2 linked regions of the Homo sapiens genome follow. The protein of the gene in region 2 interacts with the protein of the main gene of each other region in a pairwise test. Each region holds a gene or a part of one and is shown on either strand. Other genes may lie near its edges. The genes, in order: ASXL1 and ZNF317.

Evidence for each region.
Region 1: the proteins of ZNF317 (region 2) and ASXL1 interact in a two-hybrid assay, tested with the Homo sapiens proteins (one large-scale study listed by BioGRID).

What each region holds. Positions count from the first base shown.
Region 1 is NC_000020.11:32,424,153-32,427,970, reverse strand, and holds part of ASXL1 (polycomb group protein ASXL1), read right to left. Parts: intron 1-3,818.
Region 2 is NC_000019.10:9,153,834-9,157,651, reverse strand, and holds part of ZNF317 (zinc finger protein 317), read right to left. Parts: intron 1,728-3,818; 5' UTR 1,636-1,727; coding exon 1,611-1,635; intron 1,041-1,610; coding exon 904-1,040; exon of another isoform or gene 385-903; coding exon 258-384; intron 1-257. UniProt on the Homo sapiens protein: May function as a transcription factor. May play an important role in erythroid maturation and lymphoid proliferation.

The sequences.
Region 1 (3,818 bases), on a different chromosome or scaffold from region 2:
CATAAATATATCATTAAGAAAGTTAGATACACTTTTGCATTCAAACATTCATTAAACATTTATAGGGTGCCTCCTATAAGCTATACCATGTTAGTTCTGGGGAGGGTGGAGTGCTAAGGAGCAGGAATCAAGGCCCTGCTCTCAAGGAGCTCAAATAAGTAGGGGGGTCAATTAAACTGATTACAATACAAAGTACAGTACATAGGTGAACATGGAGAGCCGTGGCAGCCCAGAAGAGGGGCACCTAACTTCAATGAGTTGAGCGAAAGACGGCATGGAGGTGAATAACGATCAGGGAAGTAACACATCCAAAAGGATGTGTTGCTTAAGCTGGGTTTTAAAATAAATTAGCAACTAGACAGACAGGTTGGCAGTAGAGAGATTGTAGGAAGTTTCTAGATAGTGGGATGAGCAAATGTGAAAGAATATTCCAAACTCAGGGAAACTAGGGCTGTGGGGAACTCAATATGCAGGAAGCTAGAGAGGGCACGAGGGCAGATGGTAAGACCCATGTGGAGGGATCAAGAATTTGATTGTTCCGGAGTCACTGAAGAATATTAACTACAGGAATGATTTGAGTTTTCGGAATTTCATCTGGCAACCGCGGGAAGCCTAGAGGCAGGAAGAAGAGGTAGACACTATGAAAGATGTCCAACAAAAAATGCCAAAGATCTAAACCAAAGATTGTGGCTACAGGGCTAGAGTGTAGAGGAGAACTCCATCCCAAATTTCACCTCCTAAGAAAAGCTTCTTCCAATAGACTCACGACATGTAGACTCAGAATTAAACTCTACCCATTCCCAAGAAGAACTTGGGAGTTATCTCACACCTCAAAACTACAAAGAGTGTGGATGAGAATACTGGCAGTTGGAGACAAGAAGAAGATAAGTTGGGGCAGAGGAGGAGAATGTCTTCTTTGAATAAAAGTATGTGAAAAAGAGTTGATAAAGTCATGATTCTGCTAAAAAGGCACCATAAATTTAAAACAGGTGCCCACAACAATCTAACTCATCAATTTCATGAGTCTCTTGATCCACTACATTGAAGTTTCATCAATTTATTTTCATTAGTTTTAGCCAAAATCATGTATCTTAAATTAATAAAAAAGAGGCCAGGTGCAGTGGCTCACTCACACCTGTAATCCCAGCACTTTGGGAGGCTGAGGCAGGTGGATCACGAGGTCAGGAGATTGAGACCATCCTGGCCAACACGGTGAAACCCTGTTTCTACTAAAATACAAAAAATTAGCCAGGTGTGGTGGCACGCGCCTGTAGTACCAGCTACTCGGGAGGCTAAGGCAGGGGAATCACTTGAACCCAGGAGGTGGAGGATGCAGTGAGCTGAGATTACGCCACTGCACTCCAGCCTGGCGACAGAGCAAGACTCCATCTCAAAAAAAAAAAAAAAAAAAAAAAAGAAAGAAAAAAAAGAAAACAGTTTTCTACATCTTTACCTCTTTTCCTTACTGGCCATACATGGTCTTCAGAATCAAAAGCTAAATAATATTTTTAGTTATGCTTATTGACTGCCATGTTCTTGGTATAATAAAACAAATTTAATCTCTCTTCTCTCATGGGCAAACTAAGATAAAATACTCCTTAATGAATTAAGAAAGTCTATTACACTGGCAAAGTTACCCCAAATCTCCAGTTCTGACAAGAGTATGAGAAAATCATACATACACCCTTGATGAAAGTAAAAATGGCATAAAAAGGTTCACATGCTGCCAACGGAAAACTATTAGCCAAAACCTAAAAAATATATATGTATCTTTTATCCCAATACGAGATTTACACAGGACATGAAAAATATTGATTCTTACAAAGGAGAAAACAAATCAATTAAACTACATTAAAATTAAGACCTCCTATTCATCAAAAAACATTATTACCTACAGAGCTGAAAAAGATATCTGCAACTTACATAACCAATAAAGAACTTGTATTTAGACTACATTTATAAATCAGGCCGGGCATGGTGGCTTGCACCTGTAATCCCAGTACTTTGGGAGGCCAAGGCGGATGGATCACTTGAGGTCAGGGGTTCAAGACAAGCCTGGTCAACATGGTGAAACCCTGTCTCTACTAAAAATACAAAAATTAGCTGGGCGTGGTGGCGCACACCTGCAGTCCCAGCTACTTGGGAGGCTGAGGCAGGAGAATCACTTGAACGAAGGAGGCAGAGGTTAGTGAGCCAAGATTGTGCCACTGTACTCCAGCCTGGGTGACAGAGCCAGACTCCTTCTTGGGGGCGGGGAGAGAGGGGGAACAAATATAAATCAATGGGCAAAAGGCAACTCAGAAGAAAAATAAAAGATGTGAATTAGGCACTGCACAAGAGGATACTGAAGTAGCCAAAACATATAAAAGGGTATTTAATCTCACTAACAATAAGGAAAATGCAAAATAATGCAAATTAAAACCGCAATGAGATACTACCACATCCATCAGAATGGCTACAATTAAAGTTTGACAATATCAAGTAGTGTTAATTAGGAGTAGAACAAGTACACTGAAAACAGATCCAAGCATTTGAGAATACAATTTGGCCTTATCTGGTACAGTTGAAGATACAAACATCCTCTGACCCAGCAACGTCCCTCCTAGGCTTGGATTCCTTAGAGAAGTACATGCACATCTACACAAATCACAACCCACATGTTCATGATGCAGCATTTGAAATCTGGATTATAAACAATCAAAGTGGCTGCCAAAGGCAGAATCAAATTGTAGTACATTCAATAAATGGATGATTATACAGCAACAAAAAATGAATGAACTATAGCTACTAACGACATAGATGAATATTAAAAACAAAATAGTGAATGAAAGCCAGATACAAAATAATGCATAGTTGATGATTCCGTTTGTGAAAAGTTCAAAATAAGCTCAACTAAACTACAGCATTAGGAATGCAAAGACGGGTAGGTAATCTAAAGGAAAGCAAGAAAATAACTTTCATAAAGTCAAGACAGAAGTTACCTTCAGCTGGAAGAATGGGGCTGTGACTGGGAAGGGGCAGTGGGGGGTAGGGGAGGTGCGCCTGGCTGCTGGCCATATTTGATGTCGTGATCTAAGTGGCAGTTACAGGGTGTTCACTTTATAATAATTCCTTAAGCTGAACATTTGTGTCCTATGCATTCACTGTATTACATTCCCACAATTATAAAAGTTTAAAAACAAAAAATTTTAAGGTATTTCCTTCAAGGAACACTACCACAGATAGCCATTTAAAAGAAAGCTGTACAGCATTTAATGACAAGAGAAACGATGATACACAAGCTTAATTAGGCAATTAAATTCATACAGTATGATTCTATCATCTTTTTTAAAAAATGAAAATTTGAATGTGTTTGCATAGAAAAATGCAAGAGAAATTCTTACTAAGCTGTTGGCCACCACCATCTCTAGGTGGCAGTTTTTTTGTTTGTTTTTTGAGACAAGAGTCTCGCTCTGTCACCCAGGATGGAGTGCAGCGGCATGATCTCGGCTCACTGCAACCTCCTCCTCCTGGGTTCAAGCGATTTTCCTGCCTCAGCCTCCCGAGCAGCTGGGATTACAGGTGGCTGCCACCACGCCCAGCTAATTTTTGTAGTTTTAGTAGATATGGGGTTTCACCATGTTGGCCAGGATGGTCTTGAAATCCTGACCTCAGGTGATCCACCCACCTCAGCCTCCCAAAGTACTGGGATTACAGGTGTGAGCCACCGTACCTAGCCTAGGTGGTAGAGTTTTAGTAAGTGCTTTATATTCTTTTCAATTGTGGGTATTTTCTACTATTAACATGTATTGTTTTCTGTGATCAAGAAAATAACAATG
Region 2 (3,818 bases):
ACACTGACCCTCCAAAAGAATGGGGATTTCGTATTTCAGAAGCCCATGCCAAGCTCAGACACACACCGGAGAACCACCATGGTCCCTGCAATAGATGGGCCTCGATACCCAGGAGAGGCCCCATTAAGCATGGGTGCTGGGGCTGCTTGTTCACAGCTGCGTTCTGAACCGCTGCATAGTTCCTGGGTCACAGAACATACTCAAACAAAAACATCTAATTCATGGATGAATAAGTGGAGAAATGGCACTGGCCTTACCCAGTGAAGTGAGGTTGCTGTAGTTCTCCAGCATTACATCTTTGTACAGTTTTCTCTGAGAAGAATCCAGCAAGGGCCACTCCTTCTCGGTAAAGTCCACAGCGACATCTTGGAAAGTCACCGATTCCTGGAACGCCACACAAACTTGGGGTCAGCGAGGAACCAGCCTAACGATGTTCATGGTAAGATGGCTGAGGTTGAAGACCGGGCATGAGAGACCCAACACAGGATTTCCAGATGGCCTGCTACGGGGCTCAACATTTCCTCCAGGCATCAGTCCTCAGACATCCTCTCTCCCCATTGAGGCCATCTTGTCCTGTGCCGTCACTTCAGATGCAACCCTGACAAGGGACTAATCTCCCTCCAGTTCTAGCCCACTCCGAGAGCTTTGCCCTTTATTTCCCCCCGTCTCTGGGGCTGAGCAAGGGCCTGAGATTTTGCAAGCATGAGGGAAACAGATGCTACATAAATCACTTCCCCTAACTTCCCCAACACCAGGACAGCCCCAATATTCCTTGGCTCTCTCTTGGGCCCTGTTCTGGCATCCACTGGCTGAGATGAAGCTCTGCAAGAATTCCAGCATGCACTGGTGGGGTCTTCCAGGAAGTGCCTCTCCTGCTCTAGGGACCCAGAGATCTTAGTGCACCTGGGAACCAACACTGGGTGTGTGAGGCTCCAGACCACTGCACACGAACAGGTCCAAATTCTGGGGACAGGAATGGTCTTTTGAAGAAACAGGAAATTCTGAGTCCTGGAGACAGGTGGAATCCTGGGTGGACGTGGCTGGAGGAGAAAACAGGGTTCATGAGAATCAGAGCCTGCCCTGTCTCATAATACAACACTTGTAAACCAGGAAACTGCTCCACACTGATTCTGAGTGTTCACATCCTCAATCCTCTCTCTCTCTTCCTCCCCCCACCTCTCTTGCACACATCAGTTTCATAACAAGTCAGAGCAGCCCTGTTCCACCAAAAACATAAAGAGGGTGGTGGGCTACATACTCATAAGAAGTGACATAGTTCCAACCTAGGAGTGAAGAAATGCAAGTTCTGAGAGCTAGAGTTGTGACCTTGCTGAAAGTGATCAAAATAATAAATGAGATAACTCAGGGTTACCCATTACCTGCACCCTCTTCATGCATGAATGATAAGGACACTGGCCTGCTCCCAGACCCACCAAGACCCTCAGCAGACACAGTCACTGGGGTGGCTGCTGGGGCTCTGTTCCCACCCCTTTTCCACTTGCCCATCCTCTCCCAGCAGCCCTCTATGGTGTACGTATCTTTCACCCCATCAAGTGGCAGGGGCCACTTGCACTCACTTTCTCAGGGCACGCACTGACCCAAGAACTTACCAAATGTGGGGGACAGAGCTGCCATCCTCAGAGAATGGCAGTCAGTTTGCCTGAGCAGGGCACCAGGACAACCAGAAAGCTACTCTCTTGCTCTCACGTGACTCTCCAAGCTGGCATCTGTAGCAAATGAAAGAACATCGGGAGTAGTGAAAGGCTATCTGTCTCTCCTGCTCACCAAAGAAAACTCTGAGTTTTGTTTTTTGGCATTTCCTCTTTTGAGCAGCAAGATCTGCCTGATCCTGGACTTTTATCTTACTTAGGTAAACTCTCTCAGCAATGTGGTGATGTGGTGGGGGGACAGCCCCTGATCTGCTATAAGTGGGTTCAGAATTACTCTTCCTAAGTGATTTTCCACCAAGTACAACTCTGTTAAACCCCCTCACTCATTAAACACTCTGGTCCTAGACTTCTGCTCTTCCTTCACCTTCGAGGCCTGCGATCATTTAGGATGGCTCTATCCATGAAGATGGTCCACCCAGGATCAACCATGAGTTCCAAACTCCAATGCCCTTTGCACCCACACTCCACACCAACATATACACCCTTGGGCCATGGCCTGGACTGCATCATCACTAGAATCAGCCTCACCTCACAGGCAATGATTTGGAAATCTGCTCTCTGGGCAAAGTCTCCTGTGCAACCTTCTCACATCAACTCTCACTTTAGAGATTCGCGGCCACCTATGCTTCTGCCACCTCCTCCACTCACTGAATTTGAATTTAAACATCTTTTGAGATGAATCAGAAACTTAAAAATTCATAGAGAACAGCTGCAGTGAGCTACCATCATGCACTCCAGCCTGGGCAATAGAGTAAGATTCTGTCTCTAAAAACAAAAAAAGAAAAAGAAAAAAGGAAAATGAACAGTGAACCACGGATTGGGAAAAAAATATCTGCAATGCATACACCTGAAAAAGAATTCGTATTCAGATTAAAGAACTCCTAGATAGGAGTGCAAAAGGCTTATTGGAAAAAATAAAAAGAACTCCTTCAAAACAGAAAGAAAGAAAGAAAATCAACCCAACAAAAAGGGTAAAAGACTTTAATTAATAAACAGACATTTCACAAAACCAGTAAGAATCACATCGAATGGTGTTGAATATCATAGTCATTAGAGAAATGCAAATTAAAACTAGAACAGCCAAAATAAAAAAGACTACCAATACTAAATGCTGCTGAGTTTGGGGCACACTGGCACCTCTCATATCCTGATGGTAGGAGTGTGAAATAGTTCAACTACTTTGGAAAACACTTTGGCAGTTTTTAACAAGCACACTGACTATCTGATCCAACAATTCTGCTCCTAGATATTTATATAAGAGAAACTGTAAACAATTTATATCCACAAAGACTCGTACAAAAATGTCTGTAGTAGTCTGATTCCTAATAGCCAAATACTGTAAACAATCTAAACATCTATCAACCAGAGAATGGATATACAAATTGCAATGTTTACAGAATGGAATACTACTCAGCAATAAAAAGAAACTATGCAGACACACTACATGGAGAAATCCCTACGATGCTGGCCAAAAGAAACTGGACACACAAGAAACGCTCTGATTCCAACAATATAATGTCCATGAATAGGCAAAACGTAATTAAGTTGATAGAATTGAAAAAAAAAAGGGGGTTTCTTCAATGGAGGATAAGACAGGGATAGACTGAAAGAAGCAAAGGGAACTTTCTAGGATGATAGAAACTTACCTATTTTCAGATGTACAGTGTACACAATTGTCAAAAATTCAAACTGATCACCTAAGTAAGACCTATGCATTTTCTTGAACATATATTAAACCCTGCTTAAAAGAAAGAAAAAAAATGAGGCTTTCTTACCTTCTTGCTTCTAGTTATTTAAACAGTCTTCTCACAACTGATCTATGACCTCCTCCTTTCCTTCTATGACAAAGAGATGTCTGCCCTCCCTTCTCAAGGCAATCCTTTCAAATCTGCTCCAGGCCCATCCCCGTCTCTGGACCCTCGCACTACCTGGCTCTCCTTTACTTTCAGCCTCATTTCTCGCCCTGCTAGACAATTTCCTATGCATGGACACATGCTCAGGTCTATCCCATCTTGAAACCAATGCCTGCCCTGGCTCCCCTTAGTGCCCCCTTCCGAGCAAAAACTTAGGAGCAGTCTACATTCACCATCTCCCAATTCAGTACACCCAGCATCCACTACCATCATCCCCATCCTCACAGAAAATACA